Homo sapiens: one gene and its partners. The protein of the gene in region 2 purifies or fractionates together with the protein of the main gene of each other region. This does not show direct contact. Each region holds a gene or a part of one and is shown on either strand. Other genes may lie near its edges. The genes, in order: ALCAM, LGALS9B, SLC12A2, LRRC8A, ADCY9, ATP13A3 and ADCY6.

What was found.
Region 1: the proteins of LGALS9B (region 2) and ALCAM purify together in Homo sapiens (affinity purification with mass spectrometry; one large-scale study listed by BioGRID and IntAct). This does not show direct contact.
Region 3: the proteins of LGALS9B (region 2) and SLC12A2 purify together in Homo sapiens (affinity purification with mass spectrometry; one large-scale study listed by BioGRID and IntAct). This does not show direct contact.
Region 4: the proteins of LGALS9B (region 2) and LRRC8A purify together in Homo sapiens (affinity purification with mass spectrometry; one large-scale study listed by BioGRID and IntAct). This does not show direct contact.
Region 5: the proteins of LGALS9B (region 2) and ADCY9 purify together in Homo sapiens (affinity purification with mass spectrometry; one large-scale study listed by BioGRID and IntAct). This does not show direct contact.
Region 6: the proteins of LGALS9B (region 2) and ATP13A3 purify together in Homo sapiens (affinity purification with mass spectrometry; one large-scale study listed by BioGRID and IntAct). This does not show direct contact.
Region 7: the proteins of LGALS9B (region 2) and ADCY6 purify together in Homo sapiens (affinity purification with mass spectrometry; one large-scale study listed by BioGRID and IntAct). This does not show direct contact.

The regions. Positions count from the first base shown.
Region 1 is NC_000003.12:105,365,717-105,369,708, forward strand, and holds the start of ALCAM (CD166 antigen isoform 1 precursor), read left to right. Parts: upstream 1-1,192; 5' UTR 1,193-1,692; coding exon 1,693-1,765; intron 1,766-3,992. UniProt on the Homo sapiens protein: Cell adhesion molecule that mediates both heterotypic cell-cell contacts via its interaction with CD6, as well as homotypic cell-cell contacts. Promotes T-cell activation and proliferation via its interactions with CD6.
Region 2 is NC_000017.11:20,457,540-20,461,039, reverse strand, and holds part of LGALS9B (galectin-9B), read left to right. Parts: intron 1-596; coding exon 597-688; intron 689-2,655; coding exon 2,656-2,857; intron 2,858-3,500.
Region 3 is NC_000005.10:128,135,766-128,139,265, forward strand, and holds part of SLC12A2 (solute carrier family 12 member 2), read left to right. Parts: coding exon 1-43; intron 44-2,831; coding exon 2,832-2,959; intron 2,960-3,058; coding exon 3,059-3,143; intron 3,144-3,500. UniProt on the Homo sapiens protein: Cation-chloride cotransporter which mediates the electroneutral transport of chloride, potassium and/or sodium ions across the membrane. Plays a vital role in the regulation of ionic balance and cell volume.
Region 4 is NC_000009.12:128,909,633-128,913,132, reverse strand, and holds part of LRRC8A (volume-regulated anion channel subunit LRRC8A), read right to left. Parts: exon of another isoform or gene 3,193-3,500; intron 3,090-3,192; exon of another isoform or gene 1-3,089. UniProt on the Homo sapiens protein: Essential component of the volume-regulated anion channel (VRAC, also named VSOAC channel), an anion channel required to maintain a constant cell volume in response to extracellular or intracellular osmotic changes.
Region 5 is NC_000016.10:4,109,943-4,113,442, reverse strand, and holds part of ADCY9 (adenylate cyclase type 9), read left to right. Parts: intron 1-3,500. UniProt on the Homo sapiens protein: Adenylyl cyclase that catalyzes the formation of the signaling molecule cAMP in response to activation of G protein-coupled receptors.
Region 6 is NC_000003.12:194,428,003-194,431,502, reverse strand, and holds part of ATP13A3 (polyamine-transporting ATPase 13A3), read left to right. Parts: intron 1-276; coding exon 277-399; intron 400-480; coding exon 481-560; intron 561-1,187; coding exon 1,188-1,230; intron 1,231-1,321; coding exon 1,322-1,431; intron 1,432-1,728; coding exon 1,729-1,825; intron 1,826-2,585; coding exon 2,586-2,658; intron 2,659-3,500. UniProt on the Homo sapiens protein: ATP-driven pump involved in endocytosis-dependent polyamine transport. Uses ATP as an energy source to transfer polyamine precursor putrescine from the endosomal compartment to the cytosol.
Region 7 is NC_000012.12:48,775,590-48,779,089, forward strand, and holds part of ADCY6 (adenylate cyclase type 6), read right to left. Parts: intron 2,669-3,500; coding exon 2,519-2,668; intron 2,148-2,518; coding exon 2,026-2,147; intron 1,933-2,025; coding exon 1,821-1,932; intron 1,643-1,820; coding exon 1,515-1,642; intron 998-1,514; coding exon 839-997; intron 762-838; coding exon 620-761; intron 503-619; coding exon 374-502; intron 110-373; coding exon 84-109; intron 1-83. UniProt on the Homo sapiens protein: Catalyzes the formation of the signaling molecule cAMP downstream of G protein-coupled receptors. Functions in signaling cascades downstream of beta-adrenergic receptors in the heart and in vascular smooth muscle cells.

The DNA of each region.
Region 1 (3,992 bases), on a different chromosome or scaffold from region 2:
TGATGAGAGTTGTGATCCTGCATCCCTGATTTAGAGCCACTTAGGGCTCCGACAGCTCCACCCCGGTGTTCTAGAGGAAAATCTTCCTTCATGCTCTCTGCCTGATTTGAAAGCAACACAGCTTCCCGATGTTCCTCCTGGGAGGTGGTTCAATCTTTAGAAATTGCCTAAGAAGCCTGTCCATCTGCTGGAGTGCCTGGCTTTCGGGAACGGACCAAGACGGACTTGGCTTTTAATCTGAAATAATTTGAGGATTTTCTGTCTATAACTTAAAATCACCGCTTAACTCAAAGTAAAAAAGTGACACGCTCTCTAGAGGGCTTTTGTAGACATTGGGAAAATCCGTATGACGAAGTACGGTTTAGAAATTCCGGATTTAATTTCCCCCGGGAAAAGCAAATATCTTCTGTTGGTACCGGGCAGTCGACTCACGTAGTCTTCCTTTAAAACCAAGTCTATGCCAGCCGGGTGTGAGGGGAGTGGTGGGGGTGAGCAGGGGGAGGAGAGAGATTCGAAAAGTACAGGAGGAATCAGTCCAGTACAGGGGTTGCCCCTGCCAACAAGTAGCTATTCCTGTTAACTCCCAAGAAGCAAGTTTCCACCTTTGCCACTTCCTCCTGCCCTTTCCTTTCCTTTTCCCTTCACTCCCGCTCTTGGACCCAAGGTTCGCTCCCCACCGCCACCGCCCTGCCCCACTATTCTCTTTACAGGACAGAAGGCTGCAGCAGCACGGCGGAGAAAAATCTCTGAGGAATGAGTCAGTGGGATGGGCGTATGGGTGGAGGGAGAGGGCAGTCGATTTTTAAACCTCAGCGAGGGTGGGTGGGCAGTTGGAAGCCAGAGGCCTTATCACTGGGGCGCTGCAACATCACAGAAAGTGTTAGTCCCAGGGCTCTCCCTGGCGCGCGCGGCTCCTGTGCTTGCTTCTTATTGGCGGACCTGGCCCTGGGGGCGGAGCCGCGGTGAAGCACCGCTCATCCGGGCTCCAGGACCGGGGCACGCGGTTCTCCCTGATCCCGGAGCTGGGCTCAGGGCTCGGACTCAGTCCTGCAGCGCCTCTAGGCTGCGGATCCGCGCTTCAACCACCTGCTTTGCGCTGCGTCCGGGGAAGTGGGGAGGAGACGGGAGGGAGGGAGGAGGCGGGGAGAGGAGGAAAGAGGCAGCTTACACACGCCTTCCAGTCCCTCTACTCAGAGCAGCCCGGAGACCGCTGCCGCCGCTGCCGCTGCTACCACCGCTGCCACCTGAGGAGACCCGCCGCCCCCCCGTCGCCGCCTCCTGCGAGTCCTTCTTAGCACCTGGCGTTTCATGCACATTGCCACTGCCATTATTATTATCATTCCAATACAAGGAAAATAAAAGAAGATACCAGCGAAAAGAACCGCTTACACCTTTCCGAATTACTCAAGTGTCTCCTGGAAACAGAGGGTCGTTGTCCCCGGAGGAGCAGCCGAAGGGCCCGTGGGCTGGTGTTGACCGGGAGGGAGGAGGAGTTGGGGGCATTGCGTGGTGGAAAGTTGCGTGCGGCAGAGAACCGAAGGTGCAGCGCCACAGCCCAGGGGACGGTGTGTCTGGGAGAAGACGCTGCCCCTGCGTCGGGACCCGCCAGCGCGCGGGCACCGCGGGGCCCGGGACGACGCCCCCTCCTGCGGCGTGGACTCCGTCAGTGGCCCACCAAGAAGGAGGAGGAATATGGAATCCAAGGGGGCCAGTTCCTGCCGTCTGCTCTTCTGCCTCTTGATCTCCGCCACCGTCTTCAGGCCAGGTGAGCAAGGGCCTGGGAGCAGCCCCAGACAGACGTGGGCCTGGAGCAGTTTCCTAGGTCCCCGTCCCAGCCTCGCACCCCCGAGGCAGTGCGCCCAGGCGCGTGGTGGAGGTAAGGGGACCGCTGTCCTGGCACAGAGCTGTCCCCGGGCTCGGTCACCTGTGCCGCACGTTTGGGCTTGGCTGGTTAGCTCAAGTTTGGGCATCAAGCTGGGGAAACTGGGTGAATCTCCAGGAACTTGGTGCTCCGGGGTGGGCAGGATTCGCCTGACGCTCTCCCCTTGTCCCTGCGGCTCCCAGCTAGGCGGCGGACTCTTGCCCTCTGACAGTTCCTCCTGTCTCTGGGTATCCAAGTCCACGTCACTGCGCCCCGAGCAGTTTTTCTTTCGCTTAGTTCTCGGATGAAATAACTGCCGGCACTTTTTCGTGATAAATCCCCTAGTAACTTCCCCTTGGTGAGCCGAGGAAGGGATGGGAGGGGTAGAGAAGGAGAGGACTTTAATCACCTCCCCCCGCCCCCCTTGCGAAACCTGCTAAAGCTTAAAATCGTGGTTTCAACGTTACCCCCTGCGGTCCCCGTCCATTGTCTGGGCGGGTGGTGAGTGAAAGGGTGACCGCAGGCAGATAACACAGCCAGAACAGGAATTAGTAGGTAGGCCTGGGAGACACCTCAGTGAGAGGTTTGTGAATTTCCAGGACCTGCTCATAGAGCCTCAGTTCTCAGTTCTGTACTGAGTCTTGGAAGAGAGAGAGAGAGAGAGAGAGAGAGAGAGAGAGAGAGAGAAAAGGCAAAATTCCCAACAACTAAAATATCTCTCGGGAAATCCCTTTCCACACCCTCGGGGACGTCCCCTGGCCCTGGTATCCTCAGGCCCGCCTGGCGGCTGACACAAGTTGTTCTAACAGGGTATTCCGTGCGCTCACAGTTGCCTGACAGAGCAGCAGGTTCCTTTGCTCCCCTAAACTGAAAATTTAGGGGATTTTTTTTTCTTTGAAGTTTTTTTTTTCTATCCCTGCGTAGACAGTTGCCAGTTAAACTCCTACTTCCTGGTATTTTGGCCTGTTTGTTCTTAGCTTTTTCTTTAGCTTTTATCAAAGAAAAATCTCACTTCCTTTTATCCGTGCACATCCCTTCAGCTGTCGGCAAGCTCAGGTCACAGAAGAGGTTTGAAAGCCTCTGAATCTCTCCCAGGAACTGGCGGGGAGAGGGGTTTGGGGGCCAGAGCCTGAGGAAGAGATTACAAGTGTTTGCGAGCTGCTGCTGCTGCTGCCGTTGCTGTGTGTGTGGGCGGGAGGAGTGCCCTCTCCAGATCTCTTTATTAAAGTTACATTTCTGGGTGAGGTAATGAGCTCACCTGATGTTTCTGAGGCTGAGGGAAAAAAAAGGCGTCTGCGTTCTCTGACAAATCTCGGGCTCTGGGGCGGGGACTGTGAAACCATAGTTCAACCGGATTTAAAGCAGGTGTCCTAGTGTAACAACGCTGGGGAGGTAGGTGGAAAGGCGAGACCCCCTTGGGCCTGGCACAGTGTGGATTTCACTTTTTCGAGATTCCACTGTCCGATGGAGGAAAGGACACTTTGGAGCCAGGGAATGAGCCAAGAAGGGAGGACAAGGGTGATGTCGGTTTGTAACATGCAAACGTCCACACGCCCACAGTTGGTTTTCCGATTAACCCCCTCGAGACTTGGAGAATGTAATCTCACCCTCGTCCACACCCCTGACACAGGCACATAACCAGTTTCCTTTTCGGTGCCGTCACAGGCGGGCCACGTCGCAGGATAGGTTTTTCTACACATTTAACTGCTAAAAGGGGGAAAGTTCCGCTTTCAGACCTCCTTCACGGTGGTTCTTTTGGCGCCACAGGCTCGTGTGTCCAGGGGGCACCGAGCTGCGCGCTTTCGGCGAGCGGCTAGCCCCGGCTCACCGCAACCAGCCACCGTGAATCTGAGGATCCGATATCGGCCCTGGACCCTCAGATCCGTGGTTTCGGTGAATTACCGAGCTGGCATTGCCGAAATTCTCATTGCAGTATCAGTGTGTTTTGAAAGGAAAGGTTACAGCACTAAAGGCGCCGTGTCTACACTGAGGAAGCAAGTCTTGGACAGTAAGTGCGCCTTCTTCGGAGCCCTCTGCATAGCAGAGCCCGGTGGGGGCGCGGTGCCAAAGGCCGGCTTCATTTGAGCGGGGTAACTGCCTTCCCTGCCGGCCACTCTTCATTTCCGGAGCA
Region 2 (3,500 bases):
CTGAAGGTGGTCAGGAGGGCAAAGGTCATGGTGGCCATTGTTATATGGTGGTGGTGGGGAGAGGTGCATGCCTTCTTCTTGACACTCTCTGGTGACCCTCTCGGTGGAACCTGCAGACCCTTGATGGGTCCCTTTGTTCCCTTGGGCCTCCTGAGTCCCCAGCCAGGGCGCTGGGCACTTTGCTGGGAGCTTGGCATGGGGTCCAGCAGCCCCATTGCTACCTAGTTCCTTACCAGCCCAGGGCGTCTGCCTGCTACTTCCCTGCCTGGAAGGAAGGCCTTCCGCCTGGAGCGTTCCTGGTGTGGCCTCCGCTGCCTCTCAGACTCTCACACAAGCTCAGCTCCCTGTCGCGTCCTCTCAGGGCCAGGATTCTCCTTATCACAAGCTTAGACTGTCTGAGTAACTAATTGGATTTGTGTCTGCCTCCACACAGGACCCTAAGACCCGTGGGGCTGAGACTCCTTCTGTCCTGGTCACAGCTGCACCCTAGCCCCTCGCATGGTGCGGTCACACCCAGGCCAGCCACTGACTAGCCCCGAAGGGGAGCAAACAGGAGGCCGGCCACCTGACTGAGGCCCCATGTCTTCTCCCTGCAGGCCGTCCCCTTTTCTGGGACTATCCAAGGGGGTCTCCAGGACGGATTTCAGATCACTGTCAATGGGGCCGTTCTCAGCTCCAGTGGAACCAGGTGTGTGTATATGGATGGAAACGTTTCACTCCAGCCTCGTCCCTTAGTAAAGCCACTGTGCCTGTGAGCCTCGGTTAGTTCAAACAACAACATCCAAGCTCACGTGCCTGGCGCAGGGGAGACCCAATGCATCCTTAACCCATGCCACAGGACAGCACTCCACAGGCACAACCTGCACCCAGGGATGCCATTAACCTGGACTCCAGGATGAATGGGGCCCTGGGAGCTGAAGGTCTAAGGAAGGAGTGGGATGGTCAGAGTTGGATGATTATGTTCTGGGCTGAACCTTGCACACTGTGACTGAGAGTTGCAAAAATCAAACTTCCTCCGTTTCCCATAACTGCTTTCATCCACTCTGAAGCTCTCCTTCTGCTGACATGAAAATACTGAAAATTGACATCCGAAGTAATTTGGTCTCTTTCGGTTTCAAGGCCTTTTCTGGAAACTACTAAGTCCATTCAAAATACTAACATTGTATCAGGGCTGTTTCCCACCCCTTCCTCCCTCCCAAGGTGGGCTGTCTGGGAACAGAGAGGAGCTCACGTGGCTTGTCAGTGGCTGGGAGGGCCCCCGACCCTCACGCAGGCCTGGCTGACCCCTGCCGAGGCATCCTGACTGGGTGGCACAGAGGTGTGCAGCTCTCTCCTGGTTTAGTGAGGGACCACGGGTGGCTGCCTGCTGAAGTCTGCGGGGCCCACAGAAGAGCCTCTGGACTCATGGCTCTCTCTCGGAAGCCTCTCTGCCTCAGTCCCAGTGGACCTCTCTTAAGACCCTCTGGGCCTCGTAGATGCCAGCTCAACCTCAGCTCCGCCACCTAGATTCTTGATGACCTCCTCCGCCATTGCTATCCTGCTGTCGGACTTCTCTGAGAGCCTGCAGTGCCCCCAGGAGATGCCAAGGGCAGGGAGGCCCTGATCCCCCTGAATCCTCCAACCGGGGGAATCAGAACCATGCCTCTGATCTTCCACCCCTTCCTCTTTCCCTCTCCCTCTGTTTCCCCCACCTCCCAGCACCAGGAGGGCTTCCCACTCCCATCCTGTTGCACAGAGACAGATCCTACCTCAGAGGGCCCTCTCCTCTCAGGAGCTTTCTGTCTCTCCCTTCCTTGGGGCAGGAATTTCCAAAGGGCCACAGGAATGAAGCTGAAGGTCTCCAAAGGAAAAAAATACATGCAGTGATATTTCAAATGCAATCTTCTCCATTTATTCATTTAATTAATTTATTTTTTTCTTTAGAGACAGGGACTTTTTTCTTTCACCCAGGCTGGAGTGCAGTGGTACGATCATAGCTCACTGCAGCCTCGACTTCCTGGGCTCAAGGGATCCTCCCATCTCATCCCCCAGAGCAGCTGGGACTATAGACATGCATCATGATGTCTAGCTAATTAAATATATATATATATCTTTTTGTTTTTTAAGTAGAGATGAGATCTCGCTCTGTTGCTCAGGCTGGTCTTCAACTCCTGGGCTCAAGTGATCCACCCACCTTGGCGTCCCAAAGTGCTGTGATTACAGGCGTGAGGCACTGCGCCCGGCCCCGATTTCACATGCTCTTTACATTTGTTCTCTTCTTTCGCACTTAATCAGGCATGTGCTGGCCTCCAACAAGTGTCCACTGGCACAGAAGCCTCTCTCTTCTAGGTGTGCTTAACAACTTCCATCTTTGTTACCAACTGGTAATCACTTTCCAGGACCTATGCTTCTTGTTTGCTAATGCCAGCACTTTCCCTTAGCCATTTTCTACTTATGTTTAGAAAATCGTGCTGTAAAGGCAAAATGCAATAATCGCACAAAAACACATTGGATCCAAATTAGAGAAACAAAAACGATGCCAACCAAGCAGTCTCTGCCACGCAGGTTGTATGCAAGATCCCAGACAAACACAGGGCAGAGGCACCGAGGCCCTCCTGTGCCTGTCACTGGCAATAATCCATGCCACAGAAGACTATTTGCTTTTCCTGGGCCTAGGTTTGCTGTGGACTTTCAGACGGGCTTCAGTGGAAACGACATTGCCTTCCACTTCAACCCTCGGTTTGAAGACGGAGGGTATGTGGTGTGCAACACGAGGCAGAAAGGAAGATGGGGGCCCGAGGAGAGGAAGATGCACATGCCCTTCCAGAAGGGGATGCCCTTTGACCTCTGCTTCCTGGTGCAGAGCTCAGATTTCAAGGTAAGCAGGAATCCCCTCCCCACCTCTCGCCCACGGGACTCCCAGCCCTATCAGGTGAATGTGAATGGCCTTTTAAGTAACCACTTTAATTGACATTCAGCCAGAGTGACACCACCATACAGATAACATGACCATTTCCTTGTAAGGGTGTTACCCATGGCTGTGTAGTCTCCTTACGCACCTTCACCTGAATCTACAGGTGCACCTCCTGCTTCTTTTACTCTGAAAATAAGAACTAGAGGAGTCATCACGTTGCTGTTAGGTGTTGTGTGTCTTTGAATTCCAAGCTCATTCCATTCCTCTGCTATCACCATACCTCCTCTCCAGGTCCCTGGTAACATTTATTTTTCAGCGACATTGTTCCAGCCTTTATCCAGAGTCTATTACGGTTATAGTTCTGTAAGCACATTGCAAATTACCTTTGCAAGCACAGTAGGTCTCTGGGCTTGAGAAGCCGGTGGGTAACTCAGTCTGAATATGCTTATCTGAGATAAGGATGTTCCCATCCATTCAGTATGCAACCCGATGTCACCTCTCCTCTGCTCCCCGTGAGCATTTTATGCATATTTAAATAATACCCCTGCAGTCCTAAAAAGGAATGAGATCATGTCCTTTACAGGAACATGGATGGAGCTGGAAGCCG
Region 3 (3,500 bases), on a different chromosome or scaffold from region 2:
CCACTGGAGAGCAAGAAGCCAAAAGGGTTTTTTGGTTATAAATGTAAGTAAAAAAGATTCAATATTTTTTAAGGGTACCTATTTATAGAATTCTATCATCAATTAAATTTTGTACATTTCAGATATTTTGTAACAGAATTGACTATGGTTTGGTGATTCACCCTAATTTACAATTTAGTTTTGTCCCCTTTATGCTGTACAGTTGGAGTAAAAATTACTTCTATTTACATCTTTTCTTTTTCATTATTAGCAACAAAAGGTGATAGAATATGGAGAAATCAGTGCTGCTAAGAAAAGGAGATTTTATTCTCTACTAGTTTTGGGAATTTGTAACTGAATTTCTAACTTTTGTTCTAATATGACTTTCATTCTTTTAACATATTTAAGCACAACAGTATAAAAGCGCCTAAGATTGTGAAAGCAATTATTGGTATAATTGCATTTTTCAAGAGTGCAGGCCATTTGATTTTTAGGAGATCTCTCCAGTTGGGTTTGTCTTATTTGTTTTTATAGATTCAGGTTATTTATGTTTGTCAGGAACGTAAGTGAACCGTGTCTCCTTCTCAGTCCAGCACATTTGGAGGGTGCATGATGCAGTTTTTTATATTACTTAGTGGTGTTAGTTTTGATGACTTAGTCAAGGTTATACCTGCACAGTTTCTCTATTGTGAAGTTGCTGTTTTTTTCTTTGCAGTTAGTAAGTGATCTGTGGAAGAATACTCTGAGACTGTTCATAGCCCTGTCAAACTTCTACCAAATGGCTTCATCCTTAACCCCTCTCACATCTGGCTTTTGTTGGTTAAAATATGTCAGATGGTGATAGATGCACTATGAATTTTTTGTCCTCTGCTTCATTTCTCTTAGTCATTCCTTCTCCTTCTTGAAACATGTCTATTTTATTCGATGTCAGATACCCTAGGTGCCTAACTCACTGGTCACTATGTCCATTACTCCTGTTACCCCCTTTAAATGCAGAATTTTACAACTATTATAGTGCTGACCTTCTAACTATACACTCTCCCTTGGGTGGTGTGTATTCTCATGGCTCAAAATGCTATTAAGGGACTGACATGTTTCTATTCCTGAATCTCTCCTTTAAAGTCCAAACATAAATATATATCCAACTGATTATTTGAAGTCTCTCCTACTTATTTCTTCTCAGGCTTTTCCATCTAAGCAAGTAGCTGAAACCAGGATCTTAGTGTTTCCCGTCCTACCTGCTCCTCTTAATTTCTAATCCTTTCCTAATCAGTGTATTTATTCTCCCATCTCTAGATTGAACCTCTGCAGCAACCTCCTAATGGGCCTCCCTGTTATCAGATGTTGAATCTTTCAGTCCATTGTCCACACAACATTAATAGTATATGTCATTTGCGTGTTTATGACCCTACTTTGGTTTTCCATTTTATTTAGGATAAATTTAACTTTTATAAAATATTCACACTCTGTTCCTCAGTGGTCACTCCAATTTCATTTAATTTTTCTCCTTACTATAAGAATTTTATCTTCTTTTATTTCCTCAGAAGAGTTAAACCTTTTTCTACTTTGGGGTCTTCATATATGTTGTTTCTCTTTTCTGGTATACTCTTTTTCCCTGATGATCACATGGCTGATTCTTGCTCAGCAAACTCTTAGCTTAAGTATTGTCTCCTTCCTTATATTTGCTTAGCCTTCTGTAACCACATTGAATTAGATTCTCTCTCTCTCTCATTTGTTATTCACAAATCCCTGTTTCCATCAGAACATTTACTGCTGTTTATAATTACCTGTTATTTTGGTCATTTGCTATTGAGACTCTTAAATTCCATGAAGGCAGGAACAATGTCTAACTTGTTTATATTGCATCTCCAAGTACTTTGAGGTGCTAGAAAGCTCTAGTACAGGACCTGACACATAGTAGCTGCTGAAGTATTGAATGGATAGATGGATACATTACAGTTAGTCGGTTATCTTAGAGTCAGAGATGAAAACACTAGGTCTAGTTGAAGCTTTTATTGTTGTTGAAATAGAAAGGAACTTTACTTAGGGTAGCTAATTGTCTGACAGCCTCAAAAATCAATAGGTGACTAGACAGCAGAGAAAGCTGTGGACCAAAATCTATACAGATAGTAAAGTAAGTTGGAAGCTATCAAAAAGTTGATTCTATATTATTATGATGTTGCTTTTGTTTTCCTTTTTTTTTTTTTTCTTGAGATGGGGTCTCACTCTGTCACCCAGGCTGGAGTGCAATGGCATGATCATGGGTCACTGGAGTGTCGACTGTCCAGGCTTAAATGATTCTCTCACCCCAGCCTCCCAAGTAGCTGGGACCACAGGCATGTGCCACCACTCCTGGCTAATTTTTTAATTATTTCTAGAGTCAAGGTCTTCCTTGTGTTGCCCAGGCTGGTCTCAAACTGCTGGGCTCAAGAAATCTGCCTGCTTCGGTCTCCCAACGTGCTGAAATTACAGGCGTGAGGCACCACGCCATGCCCCCTTTTGTTTTTCTACCTCCCTTCTTGCTTCTTTTACCTCAGAGATTGAGGGGATTATCCACATTTTGATTTGCATTTGGGCTAGTCATAACAATTCATTCAGAGGCTCTTGAAACATAATTAGCGAGGTATACAAAAAATGAGACATGAATCAGATCAGATGATCATTTTGATGGTAAACCATTGTCTCATACAAGAAAAGAACACCAAATACTTGAACTGGGAAATATGCAAAAATTTACTCGTTACTTTAACTGAAGAAAAGTTAGGGGTCATGTATACCTATTATTCTTGACCTCAGTTATTATAGTCTAATTTGCTCTCCATTAATTGTCAAGAATATTTTGTTCTCTGCAGCTGAAATATTTAATGAGAACTTTGGGCCCGATTTTCGAGAGGAAGAGACTTTCTTTTCTGTATTTGCCATCTTTTTTCCTGCTGCAACTGGTATTCTGGCTGGAGCAAATATCTCAGGTGATCTTGCAGTAAGTATTATAAAGTGCTATATCAATTATATATTTTAAAAGTGGAATTTGTATATTTATTTTTACAGATAGACTTTAAAAAATCTTCTTGTCTTCTAGGATCCTCAGTCAGCCATACCCAAAGGAACACTCCTAGCCATTTTAATTACTACATTGGTTTACGTAGGAATTGCAGTATCTGTAGGTAAATAGTTTCACATTTCTTTATGTGTCGCAGAAATTTCATGATGTACGTACTATAAATACTTATTTTTATGACATTTGCTAACTTTTTTAAATACAGAAATATTTCAATAAAAAGACATGGAGTTGCTCATTATAATTCAAAAACAGTTTTTAGAAAACTAGTAATGACTTCTATAGACATTATCTAAACCGCCAAATGCTTTATGGTATCTCCAGGATTTTTATTAATTATGGTAAATTAAAAAATTATATGAAATTGCATCTATAAACTCATTCCACTGAGATACTGAAAACAATGTATGTGTAGAAGCAAATGAATTTCACTCTTACAAATTTCTGTATTTTTTTAAGATGG
Region 4 (3,500 bases), on a different chromosome or scaffold from region 2:
CCTCTTCTGCAGACTCCTGTCCTTCTCCCTCTCTGCTCTCCACAGTGAGCAAGTCAAGGACCCATCTTCACCCATGAGCCTGGAAAGGGTGACTCCTTGGGCTTCAGGTGGATTCAAGATGGTCCCTTGGACATCCCAGAGCCCCAGACACCTGACATGAGACACACCTTGGCCTCTGAAAACCTGTGCTTCCTCCAGTCTCAACAATCCACAAAAAAAAGCTCAAGTCACTCAGACCACCCCCACCATCAACTCCCGTCCCTTTGAATTCCCCCTCCAGCGTCTCCCAGATCCGTCCATGTCTCTCCATCCCTACCTGCCTTGGCCACGCCAGGCCCCGTGGCCTCACCTGATGGCTAATCGTGGTCTCTTAACAGCTCTCTTCCACCTCCCACCTCTCACTCACCCCACCCCACACACTACCGCAAGAGGAACCTCACGCTGCAAGTCAGCTCATTCCTTCACCCACTCAATCACTAGGAATTCGGTAAACACTTGCTTGAACAAAAGAGCTAGGTCTTAGTCATCAGAGCCTATGGGCTGGCAAGGGATCGGCTGTTAAACAAATGAAGAGACAATTGAAACTGAGGTGTAGGACAGGACCCCCCTGCCATCCACACCCCCCCCCATAGCCCCACCTCTGCTCTCCAGGATGCCCACATTCCTGGGCAGCCCATCTCACTGCTCCTCCCCACCAGAACCTCCTGGACTGTCCCTTTCCCCTCCACCTGGCTTCCTCCTCCTCGTTCTTCAGGGGCCTGTTCCTCTGTGTTCCCAGGGACCTGGTGCTCCAGCAGAGCGCCTACGCACTGTGCTAACTGCCTCGTTACTTGGCCTTCTTCATCCCCATGTCCCCGGCGCCTTGCTCCATAGCTGGATTCTAGAAGTGCTCAAAAAACATCTGCACAAAGGCCAGGCGAAGTGGCTCATGCCTGTAATACCAGCACTTTGGGCGGCCAAGGTGGGAGGCTTTGAGGCCAGGAGTTTAAAGACCAGCCTAGAAAACACAGTGAGACCCTGTCTCTACCAAAAAAACAAACAAACAAAACATAACAATTTGCACACATCAGTAAACGAGTGAACGAATGAATACTGTCTTGTCAAGGCTTTCATTAGCAAGAGTATAAATCTGGAGAAACAGCACGCAAGGGCGTGGGCAGGCCACGCCCACCCCTCCTGGTCACCACTGGCCAAGGTGGCTGAGAAGGAGCCATCAAGCCCGAGTGAGGAGGAAGAGGGGCTCAGGCCTCCCACTCAGAATGAGGGGCCTGCCTGGGGTTGGCCCAAGTGAACTGTTTTCCCTATTAAGGCTCTGGTGTTCCAGGGGGTGGGGACAGGATGTGATTAAGCCATGTGCTAAACAGGGTGTCCAGAGGGTCTCCTTCCTCTGGGACAGCGTGCTTGCCGCCAGCTCCTTTCCTGAGGGGTGACCTCAGCCAGCAGGCATGACACTAACAGGCAAGCTTGGCGGGAGGAGCTGGGGGTGGGGGACAGGATGGGGAGCCAGGCTGGAGGCTTGAACCCTCCCCCAACCAGGAGGACAGCCCCAGCACAGCACCCGGGACAGGGCAGGAATGGCAGGAGCTGTGAGGAAGTCCCAGCTTATCAAGGGCAGCACTGTGCTATGGGGAAGCCACAGGGTCTCCCCCTCCACAGATTAAAGAAGGGCTGGGTTTGTTCTGTGCTTCCCAAATGTGGCTTCTCCCCAGGGGACTCCAGTTTTCCTATTCAGTGGGCCTGTCCCGAAACTACAAGAGAAAACCCTGCCCTGGTCCACTCTCCCACTGTGCTCAAGTCATAATATGGGGTGGCCGGAGATAAGGACTTGTCAAAATCCCTGATACATGTGGGTTGCAGGTTGCTCTGCAGTAAGGGAGCCCTGGGGAAGAGGGGAGGAAGGCTTCCAAGCCAGCAGGCATCTGGAGGGCCTGAAGCATCTAGTCTGAGTGATGCTGGAGAAGGTGTGTCCTGTCCTGGGGCCCAGGAGGACAGACAGGGCATTCCAGGGGCCACCTCCCTCCGTGCCTGAGGATACTATAGACAGACCGGGCATTCCAGGGGCCACCTCCCTCCGTGCCTGAGGATGCTATAGACAGACCCTGTTGGGAGGACTCAGCAGGTTGGTGGAAGGAGGACAGGTGCATCATGCCTGGCACAGGGCGAACACAGAGCAGGTGCCCACGAAACCAACAGGGACTGCACCGTGGGGCTGCTGCATGGCAGATGCACCCAACAGCAACAACCGAACTAAGAAACGCGGGTTGCCACACGGAGGCTGCAGAGGGGAGGGTGCTTAGTGAAAATGCTCTATGAGCTGCACGCTTTTTATAAGCAGGAGTGGTTTTCCTATTTGGCTCACTGCTGCTGGACCACCCTGTAAGTAAGTTCCCCCAAATAAACCCCATGTTTCAATGGCCGGCTCCAGGGCTCTTCATTTTACTTTGAGACTGGGTCTCACTCTATTGCCCAGGCTGAAGTACAGTGGTACAACCATAGCTCACTGCAGTCTTGAACTCCTAGGCTGAAGCGATCCTGCCTCAGCCTCCCAAATAGCTGGGACTACAGGCACATGCCACCATGCCTGGATCATTTCTGTATTTTTGGTAGAGATGGGGTTTCCCTATGTTGCCCAGGCTGGTCTCGAACTCCTGAGCTCAAGTGACCGCCCCACCTTGGCTTCCCTAAGTGCTCGGATTACAGGTTTGACCCACTGGGCCTGGTCAACTCCGAGTCTCTTCTTCAGCCTCCTGAACCTGGTGGCATCCCTAGTGAAGTTCACAGGGGCCCGGCACGACAGCTGCTGCTGTGTCGGGGGCAGAAGGGTGGCTGGCTGGGCTCTCCCTTGTCTCCCAGCGCCTGGCCTCAGGCTTCCTCCACCACATGTCTCACTACAGGAATCTCCACCTGGATGTGAGGCCCAGGAAAACCTGCAGGTCCCCAGGACGGGTGGAAGAGGGACGTTCCCCACAATGGCAGTGGCTTTGTTTCCATTTCGGAGGCCAGACCACAGAGCCACAGGAGTACCCAGCCCTCCATCCACACTGCCTGCCTCCACCAAGGGGCCCTTGGATGGGGGCTTCCCCAGCCAGGTAAGAGACTGGCACCCACAGACCACCAACAGTCTTGAAAGTATGTCGAAGGTGTGGCCTCCCAAACTCCCAGTGACAATGATTTGCACAATTTCCTTTTCAGAAGGGCAGGCAGAAACAAACTAGCCCCATCTAGGCCCAACTCTGCCTCTGACACCACCAAATGCAGTGGAGAAAGGTGTGTGGGAGCTGCAGAGACCATCCAAGGCTTCCCCTCAGCCAGCACTGGCCACCCACACAGTTTCTGTCCTGGGTGGACCCGGATTGGCTCCTTGCCTCCAAGTCCGACTGGGAACAAGCTGAGGAAGACACAAACTCCAGGCTAAGTCTTGACTCCCACCACCCGGCTTTGCGAGAGAACCCCCGGGTTTGGACCTCCTGCCCAAGCACATCCCTGCTGAAGAGGAACCC
Region 5 (3,500 bases), on a different chromosome or scaffold from region 2:
ATGGAGCCCTTCAGCATTCAGCACTGTTTAGCACTTAAGGAAATTGCCTTTGCATTCATTTGGTCACCCTGAAGTCCCATCCAAATGTTTCTCTCTGCCCTTTTTGCGAAAACGTGGAGAATAAAATCTTTCTCCTCTCTAGGCCTCACTTTGCTTATCCTCAAAATAGGGATAGGAAGTCGGCGCAGTCCTGCAGGTCTCTGGAGAATTAGACGGAGTTACTTACCTCTGAGTACACACTGTCTTTTATCTAGGTCTTTTTTTTTTTTTAAAAAAAGTTTGCATTTTCAGCTTTCAGCCATCATTTGTTTAAGGATATTTTATTATCATAGTATTTGCCTTAAGTGAAGAGCTTCATATTGAGCTTCTCCAGCCACCAGGTGATTTGGAAGGGAGAAACGTACCTGCCGGAGAGCTGGTATTCCCCTCCCTCATCCTCTCAGGTTTGGATCTGGTGCCTGGTCCCTGGTTTGAAGCTCCTTACTGCTATTCTTGATGTTTTTACTGGGCTGCTTGTTTTTTCTAATATAGGACAAAAGTCTTTGAGATCTGGAAAATGATATTAAAATAAGTAGGACGAAAAAGAAAGATTTTAAGTAATCTGCTACATTTCTTCCCCCACTTCCTCCTTTTTAAACAGTCCTTATGTTTTACTAAAATCTTCAGGATTGAGGGGAACATCTGTTGTGGAAGTATGTAGAGAAAATAACACTGATTTTTTTTAAAAGCCTGCTTTTGTGAAGCTGTATTGTATTTTGTGGTCCCCACACACTGCATACTTAAACAGTTAAAAGCCTCAGGAAAGGGAATCCTCGGAAGAAGTAATTAATAGTTCCAATCAGAGATGGCAGAAGTAATAGTTTCAATCAGAGACGGCAGAAGTAATAGTGTCAGTCAGAGACGTCCAGTGGTTGAGGTAGGGCCTGCATAGGTCGTTGGTGTGAGATCATCCTATGTGTCCAGTTGGCATTCTCTTTCTCTGGCTTGTGATCTGAGCTCCTGTATCTTTTATGTATTTGTTCTCTGGCAAGGGAACATCATCTTTCTTCTGATTTTTCTTTATTTTACTAACTTTGCTGTTGAAGATTTTATGGATGTAGACGAAAACTATTTTCACCCGAGAATTCCCCTAACCTAGAGCACTTTAAGGACTATGTTAACAAGGTCAGAAACTACACTTTCTGTTCACTTGAAAGATGCTGCCGTGATGAGTGTCTTTCCGTTTAGGGCGGTGGCACTCGCTCTTGAGTCTGAAGGTGTCAGTGGACGGGGCTGTGGGTGTAACCCCCTGCTTGCCACCTTGGCATTTTTAGGGCCCAGGTGTTGTGAGCTCTGTCCTTGGAGACTGTGGGACGGTGGAGCTGGGCGGCAGTACGTTAAATTAAATATGTTGGCCCAGAGGACAATGAGAACGTTTTGTAAGCTGTACTTTGTATGCTGTATTACTCGAATTTCAAAAATGAAGAGGGTGTAATTATTAAATATGTTTGGAAATTGCCAAGTCATTGAATACCTATTTTGTGAATTTATGAGTAGTTTTATTTTTAAGTTTGTAGATCAGGGGTCTCAGACACAGAGCCAAAAAAAAAAAATGCTAGAGTGAGTTTGTGTTTTTTTTTTTTTAAACCTCAAATAGTGTAAATTTGGTAAATTAACTTTTCTTGACATTTGTGTACATTGTATATTTATAAAAGTTTTAGTACTGTAGGGAGTAGGGAAGATAGAAGGCTTAGCTTAGCTGCTGATTTTTTAAAAGTGATATTCTTTCCTTTAGCTCTTTCTCTGAGACCACGATTTTGTTTTCTTGAGCTCATTTTACAAACCTTTGTGGATAGGACTCCAGGAATAGAGTATGTCTACACAACTTCCTGGCCCTTTTGGAAACTGTCCTTACAAAGCTAAATTGAGATGACAGCACAGTTTGTAGAAGACCCTTTCACACACATAGTTAAGCTTATCTACATGTAAGATCGATTTTAGCCTCTGCCTTTGGGCTGGTGGCAGATGTTTTCTCTATACAATATTGGGTATTACGGGAGGCTGAGGCAGGAGAATTGTTTGAACCCGGGAAGAGAAGGTTGTAGTGAGCCGAGGCTGCGCCACTGCACACCAGCCTGGGCGACAGAGCAACTCTGTCTTAAAAAACAACAACAACAAAAACAAAAAAAACCCCAATACTGGGTGTATTAGCCTTTCCCTCTTACCCCCTTTTCTGATCCCAGGGTTAAAAAGCAGCCAGTAGCGGCCCTGCAGGAATGGGCATCCATAGAATGAGAAGGGGCTTCTAGAACTAGCCTGGGAGCACAGAAGGAAGCTCCTCTCATTCAAATTTATCCGAACAGGCTTTGCAGAAGGGTAGTTTCATGATTTCTGCACATTCCTTCACTCTGAAATCTGTGTCGTGCCCCTGGCACTGACTGTGCACCTGGCACTGTGGATGTGGAGCAGGATCCGTGATCGTGGAGCAGGATCCGTGATCGTGAGGTAGGAGGTGGGACTCGACTCCAGAGGCGGGGTTCAGATGCCAGACCGAATTGAGGACTAGCTGATACAGGGATGGGGCAGAAGCAGCGTTCTGCAAGGCACGCCCACCAGTGTGCCTTGTTAGTTTACTGTCGCCATGGCCACACCCGGAGTTACTGCCTCTTTCCATGGCCGTGACCTGACAACCCAAAAGCCACCACCCTTTTCCTAGAAGTGTCTGCCTAAGCCTACCTTTACTCTACAGGAAATTAAAAGTAGGTATAAGGTAAGGCTGGGCGCAGTGGCTCATGCCTGTAATCCCAGCACTTTGGGAGGCCAAGGCGGGTGGATCACCTGTGGTCATGAGTTGGAGACCAGTGTGGCCAATATAGTGAAACCCCGTCTCTACTAAAAATACAAAAATTAGCCTGGTGTGGTGGTGTGCGCCTGTAATCCCAGGTGCTCGGGAGGCTGAGGCAGAAGAATCGCTTGAACCCAGGAGGTGGAGGTTGCAGTGAGCTGTGATCATGTCCACTGCACTCCAGCCTGGGCGACAGCCTAGGCGAGACTGCGTCTCAAAAAAAAAAAAAAAAAAAAAAAAAAGTAGGTATAAGTATGATTGCAAAACTGCCCTGAGCTGCTACTTTCCGCCTTTGGGAAAGCCCAGCTCTGCAGGAGCAGTCATGGAGCCGTATAACACTGCCTGCCTCTTCAATAAAGGTGTTTTCTTTCCTGCCACCGGCTCACCCTTGAATTATTTCCTGGGCAAAGCCAAGAACCCTCTTGGGCTCGGCCCCACTTTGGGGCGCGTCTGACCTGCGTTAATAGTTCCCAACCTCCGTGAGCTCACAGTTAAAAATGTTGTGGAGTATGTTCGGGAGTGGGGAGCGCTTTAGAGGGGGCTCCTGCTGGAGCTGGGTCCTGAGATCAGGCTGTGGCTCTCCAGGTGGACAGAAGAGCACCAGGGCAGAGCGGAGAGGTGGGTATGGCTGGGCCCTGTGCTTCTCTGTGGGGGCGGACGATTGTTAGTTGTTCAT
Region 6 (3,500 bases), on a different chromosome or scaffold from region 2:
GTTTTAAAGTACAAGAATTCCAGATGTTTATCGTATTCTTCAGGTAACTAGTGGTAAATGATGCAGGTGGTCCATCATACTCAGTTCATGCATCATTTCAAATTGAAGCTGATATTTAATTGAGTTTCTTTTTACTTTGAATAAATGTCCGGCTTTCATCATGTTGTGGAACATATCAAATGAAAGAATTCAGTTTTAGAACAAATATGTTTAAAATAGAATTGTTTTACTTGGTTTGGTTGCCTAAATATTGTTCCCAATGTCTCATATACACAGGCTATTCCGGTTAAATTGGTCCATGATAGCTTAGAGGATCTTCAAATGACTCGTTATCATTTTGCAATGAATGGAAAATCATTCTCAGTGATACTGGAGCATTTTCAAGACCTTGTTCCTAAGGTAAGTAATTTGGGTGTATGTGTGTGCTCACATGAATGCATCGCAACAGTATTTTAAAAAAATTTGTATTATTGTTTCCAGTTGATGTTGCATGGCACCGTGTTTGCCCGTATGGCACCTGATCAGAAGACACAGTTGATAGAAGCATTGCAAAATGTTGAGTAAGTATTGGTGTCTTTTTTGGTTTTGGTTTTTGATGAATGATGGTTTCATTTCAGCATCAGAAAAATAATTTTTATATGTTTCTTATACTAATATTTCATATTTATATATATAATTGTGATCTATAAGATAGTTCAGAACTTTAAGTGCCGCTTTAAAAGAGTCTCATGTGCTTTTTATTTAGCTAAAGTACAATATCCACAGTTTTTTCTCTATGACTTCATTCTTTCAGGTGCTCTATCTTGATAGAAGTGGCTAATCATTTTAGTAAACAGTTATGTTTCAGGTTATTAAGGGATAAATTTTTACTGATAACGTTAAAAGTAGCCATACTAAAGACTGTAGGCACAAGCGCTTTGCTCTAAAGATGAGGAAATTGAGACACCAAAATGATTTGCCGATAATGTGACAGAAATAGGACAATAACCTAGCTCATTTCACTTGTGGTCTGGTGCTGTTTGCAAAGCAGCACACCTGTGTTCATTATAGTGAAAAGATTCATAGTTCCACTGGGGGAATCTTGGTGTGTTAGCTCTTTATAATACTGTAATAGAAAAGTCTTAATAAGTTAAATGTTTTGTAGTTTAAGAAATTAATTAAAATCTTAACATTGTTTTGTTTCTTAGTTATTTTGTTGGGATGTGTGGTGATGGCGCAAATGATTGTGGTGTAAGTATAGTTTTTGTGATTTAGTTTTATAGTTCTTACTCTAGCCTAAATCATATTCACAAAACTTAACCAGTTTTCTTAAAATTATTAGGCTTTGAAGAGGGCACACGGAGGCATTTCCTTATCGGAGCTCGAAGCTTCAGTGGCATCTCCCTTTACCTCTAAGACTCCTAGTATTTCCTGTGTGCCAAACCTTATCAGGTAGTACAAATTAAAATTTTTCTCATCCCTTTTTCTCTGTCTCTGATAATACAGAAGAGAAAATTATCATAAAAAGTAACATGAATTTGTTTAATATTAGCAGATTAGCACATTTGAGCTGTAACTTATTAGTAACAGATTGATTGCTACTCCTCATTTGGTTTAGTTCTTTTGGTGGATAAGCACTTTGTTGTAGCCGTTGAATGTTGATGTTCATCTGTCAAGATAAAATTGTGGTTTGGAAAAGGAGTTTAAAATGCTTCTATTCATATGCCGACATTTGATTTCTTTTCACAGGGAAGGCCGTGCTGCTTTAATAACTTCCTTCTGTGTGTTTAAATTCATGGCATTGTACAGCATTATCCAGTACTTCAGTGTTACTCTGCTGTATTCTGTGAGTATTAACATTGTGTGCAGAGATAACACTTAATGTGCACCGTAAATTAAGATGTTGAGCGTATGTGTTTGATTTTGAATGCATCCATTAGTAATTGTTTCTGTGAGTAGTACCTATAAATTTACCTTCAATTTACTGTAGTTTGAATAGCAAATTGAAAAAGTTAAAATGAGAAAAGATGTTTCAACAGTGGTTTGTTGAATTTGGAGAATGGTTTGCATTTGGAGAAAAAGTATAAACAGCGATGGCCACAGGTACCCTATCAGATTTTATAATCAAAGTGTTCTGACATCCTAAAGACTCATGGTGACACTATCCCATTTGACCGTTTGTAGAAAGTATCAGAAGGGATGGTATTAGATGAAGATACTAATTTACAACGTTGAATATTTTGAGTAAATGTTTGTGTTTTCTTTTTGCCAAAAAAACCATGTTGGCCAGGGTGGTCTCGATCTCTTGACCTAGTGATCTGCCCGCCTCGGCCTCCCAAAGTGCTGGGATTACAGGTGTGAGTCACCGCGCCCAGCCTATTGAACGAATTTTAAGGAGATGCCTTTTATACTAATATACTAAATCAAATATTTATAAATATATGTTATATTTAGTTTCAGAGACACTTATATTTCAATTTTTAAGCAGGTCCGAGTGTCATTTTTAAGTTGTCATTATAGGGAAAATCCAAACTATTAATAAAACCTGGGGACGCTATAAAAATAATTCCCAAAAACTAATAATGTTTTTAAAATTACTTCTGTAGATCTTAAGTAACCTAGGAGACTTCCAGTTTCTCTTCATTGATCTGGCAATCATTTTGGTAGTGGTATTTACAAGTGAGTATTTTGCTTTGTTATTGATTTTTAAAGTGTATGAAATTCTGATGTGACTTATTAAATTTTTGTAAATTTACATCAACAATTGTAACATAGCTCACACCTCTCCAGATTCCTTGTAAATATGTTATTTTATTACCAGTTGTTTATATCTTGCGCCAATTTTTTAATTGTTCTGTCTCTATTTTTTTCCCTGAAATATTTGAAAATAAGTTTTGAGTCATTATGCTCTTTTGCCTCTGACAATTTTAGTATATATTTTCTAAAAGCAAAACCATTCTTTTATGTAACTAAATACAGTTGTAAAGATCAGGAAATTTAACATTGATATAATATCTGGTGCAAAACCTATATTCAGGTTTTGTCATTTGTGTCAACAATGTCCTTTATGCCTATTTTCCCGTAGTCCCCTAGATTAGAACAAAAAATATCTCCAGACATTGCCAGATGCTCCTTTGGGGTGCAAAATCCTCCAGTTGAGAACCACTTATCTTTAGTAGATGATAAAACTAGTGAAAGTTTGATGAGGAGCAGGATTTTCACAGTCTCAAAGTATCTTTTCACAAGGTGCTAGTTACAAAGGGAAAAATAGAAATTTCTTTTTTTCTTTTTTTTTTTTTTTTTGAGACAGAGTCTGTCTCTGTCACCCAGGCTGGAGTGCAGTGGCACGATCTCAGCTCACTGCAACCTCCGCCTCCCGAGTTCAAGCGATTCTCCTGCCTCAGCCTCCTGAGTAGCTGGGATTACAGGTGTGCACCATCATGCCCTGCTAATTTTTATATTTTTAGTAGAATCGGGGTTTCACCATGTTGGCCAGGCCAGTCTCTAACTCCTGACCTCAA
Region 7 (3,500 bases), on a different chromosome or scaffold from region 2:
GTCAGGGAAAAGGAGGATCTCGGCTCCCCCCAGCCCCATCCCAGGGTGCAAGTGCCTTCTCCCTCCTCAGTAACCTGACTTACTTGTCTTTGCTGGAATCATCAATGCCCTGGAGAAAGGGACAGAGTGTGGAGTGAGGTGAAGGGCCAACAACCTTCATCTCTGCAGCTCCTTCCCCCACCCCAACACTGTGCTGAGGGTGTCCCCGTCATATCCTCTGGGGGCACTGGGACCCGAGATGAAATCTTCTCACTGCCCCAATACCAGAAAGCATACATGGAAATGGCAGTCACAAGAAAGGACAGGGTCAGGGACAGGGTATTGAGGGAGCTAAGAAAATGAGGCCCTAGGTCTGGTGCTGAGGGCCCCTCACCATCTGGCGGAAGGCCTTGGAGTCCTTGGTCCGGGAGAAGGCACGATCAGGAACCCAGCGCGGCATCAGCCCTTCCATGGAGTTGGCCCGAGTCCGCTGCAGCTTGGCCAGCATGGCCTTCTCCTCTTTCTGTGCGGGCAGCATGGGTACAGGCTCAGAAGAGGGGCCCAGAGGAGGCCTTGGCCTGCTCCTCCCCATTTGTCCCTCTTCTTGCTCCCCTGCCCCCAGCCCTGCCCTGGCCCTGACCCGTTTCTGGCTGGCGCCCAGGATGAGGAAAGTCTCAATGTGCTGCTCCTTGAGGTACGCGTTGCGCTCGCCACCACGGCCTGGCTCCACCTCGTAGTCCCCGTTCAGGTACTGCAGTGTTGCCCGAGTGATGTGGATGCGGCTGTATGTGGCCAAGAGGGTGAGACCCTGGCTCTCCCACCTTGCCCCCATCCCCCCCACCTGGACCCCCCTACTCACCCAGCCCGGCCTCCTGCCTCCATGTGGTTGGCCAGGGTCACATCATTGGACCACACATCGAACTGCCATTTCCGCAAGCCAAGGACGCCGCAGTGCACGCGCCCGCTGTGGATGCCCACGCGCATGTTCACATTCACACCTGTCACCTCACGTACCAGCCTGGGAGGATGCAGCCCCAGATCAGCTCCTGGCAGTCTTCCCCTCCCCCAGCCCACAACCCAGGCCCTTCACTCCTCTCAGGGCCCAGCGGGCAAGGACAGACCCAGATGCAGGGGACGGGAGCACAGCCTTGGTTGGACATGAGCAGAAGGCTGCATGGGGCTCAAGGACAAATGTTAAGGCTGTGTTCAACAGCAGGGGCCCAGCAGCATCTTATGGAACTGAGCTAGGAGAAGAGGAATCACTGTTATCCCCTCTGGCCTGCACAGATGGCATTCCCTCTAGCCCAACTCCCCTACTGCATAGGCTCTCCCGGCCCCATCTCGGCTGGCTGGGAGTCTAGGGGTCCGCATGGGTCTTTGCACAGGTTGGAGAAAGATTCCCCTTCCCAGTGACAGACAGACCTCAAAGACAGAGAAAGCCAAAACTGAGGAAATCTCCTGAGGTCTCATCAAAAAGTAGGAGCAGTCTGGGGCACCCGCAATTCCAGGAAGCCTAGGAATGGGGCACTGCTTACGAGATGGCCTCAATCATGTCTACCCCCATCTCCACACAGCAGTGGGCATGGTCGGCCCGGGCCTCCGGCAGCCCTGACACACAGTAGTAACAGTCCCCCAAGATCTTGATCCTCAGGCAGTGATTCTCCTGAATGGGAAGGAATTGGAGGGAAGGGTAACCTTTACTCTCTTGCCCACCCAGCCTGCATGGCCCACCACCCTCCACGCATACTCTATCTGCCCTCAAATCCCCAGCTGCTGCCAGCAAAGCTATGCTCTCACCACGGTCAACACCCAGGCCCAATCCCAAGGCCCAGCACCCTCACCGCAGCCAGCTTGTCAAACCGGGCAAAGAGCTCATTCAGGGTCATGACCAGCTCCTGCGCAGTGCACTGGGATGCCAGGCTGGTGAAGCCCTCAATGTCTGCAAACAGGATGCTGTAGATGACAGCAGAGGATGAACAGAACACATAGCCCTCAAAGACTTCCAGACCCCCCGCCCTGCTGGGCATCCTCCTACCCTCACCCTACCTGACATTGTCATGCTTCTGTATGTAGATCTTGTGGAACATCATGTCTTCTTTTTTTGTGTTGATGTCTTCTTTCATCTCCATGGCAACGTGCTGGGGCAATACCGACAGCAGCAGCCGCTCCTAGCCCAGTGGTTCCAATAGGGCATCACTATACTCTTGGTCTCACATTGCAATCCCTCCTGGTCTCTCCACATCGCCAGAGCCCTCCTAGACTTCTCTGAAGACCTGACCTTCCCTTCTGGACTGTGGCCTGACCTTCCCCCATCAGAGCCCCCTCTGACCACCCTCCATTGAGCCCCCAGATGTGCTCCTGTCTACGCCCTCCTTCCCTTGGACAGGACAAAACCCCAGTATCACAGGGCCTCTGTGACGCACAACCCAGGGGAACCATCACACTGTGCTGCACGGAACTGGACAAGGCAGCAGATCCAATGTGCAAGTTATTTGGGGGTAAGGTGGGGGCAGGCCCTGGTCACGGGGAGCAGCCCCACCTGCTGCCGATTCTCATGCTGCAGGTGGAGCCGGGCCTGGATGTAACCGCGGGTCTCCTGAAAGGCCTGGCGCTGAGACACCTCTGCTGGATAGTGTGTGCAGATGCCAATGACGTTGGTGCAGAGGAACAGCAGCACATTGGCACCGAGCTGCAGGAGGTGGCAGAGGCAGACAGTGACCATCTCCTCTGCCTGCCCCCCTAAACACACACACACATTCACACAACTTGCTAGGTTCTCTGAGGAAGGAAGCCAGGGTCCTGCACCCTGTCTGTCCCCAAGCCACTGCCACCCCTGCAATATATCTCTCCCATTACCCACAGGACCCCAGATCCCAGCCAACTGCCTGAATCCTCCATGACTAGAAATGAGATCTTTTCACAGCTTCTGGAAGCAGAAGACCAACTAGGGCCAGATAAGTCATGGGGCCCAGCCCCAGCACCCTGTATCTCCTGCTCCTCAAACACCCCACACAAAAGACAAACGCTGCTCCTTTTGCAGGTGCTCCTCCTTAAGGACAGCACCCAGGAGACCTGAGCTCTACATCCTCCTGTGAGTGACCCAGGACAAGTCACCTCCTCTCTCTTGGGTTTGCTCATCTATAACCCAAAGAGGAAGAATGAGAAGATCTCTAAAGCCTCTCCCTGACTTGACATAACTTAGTAACAATAATCACCATTGTCATTATTATTATGGTAGCTAGTTTGTTGGCTGCCTACCATATGCCAGGATTCTGTAGGTGTCTTCTATACACTGAATAACACATTTTTTTTTTTTTTTTTTTTTTTTTTGACAGAGCCTTGCTCTGTCACCCAGACTGGAGTGCAGTGGCCTGATCTCGGCTCACTGCAACCTCCGCCTCCCAGTTCAAGCGATTCTCCTGCCTCAGCCTCCAGAGTAGCTGGGATTACAGCCACCTGCCACCATGACTGGCTAATTTTTGTATATTTTTTTAGTAGAGACGGGGTTTCACCATGTTGGT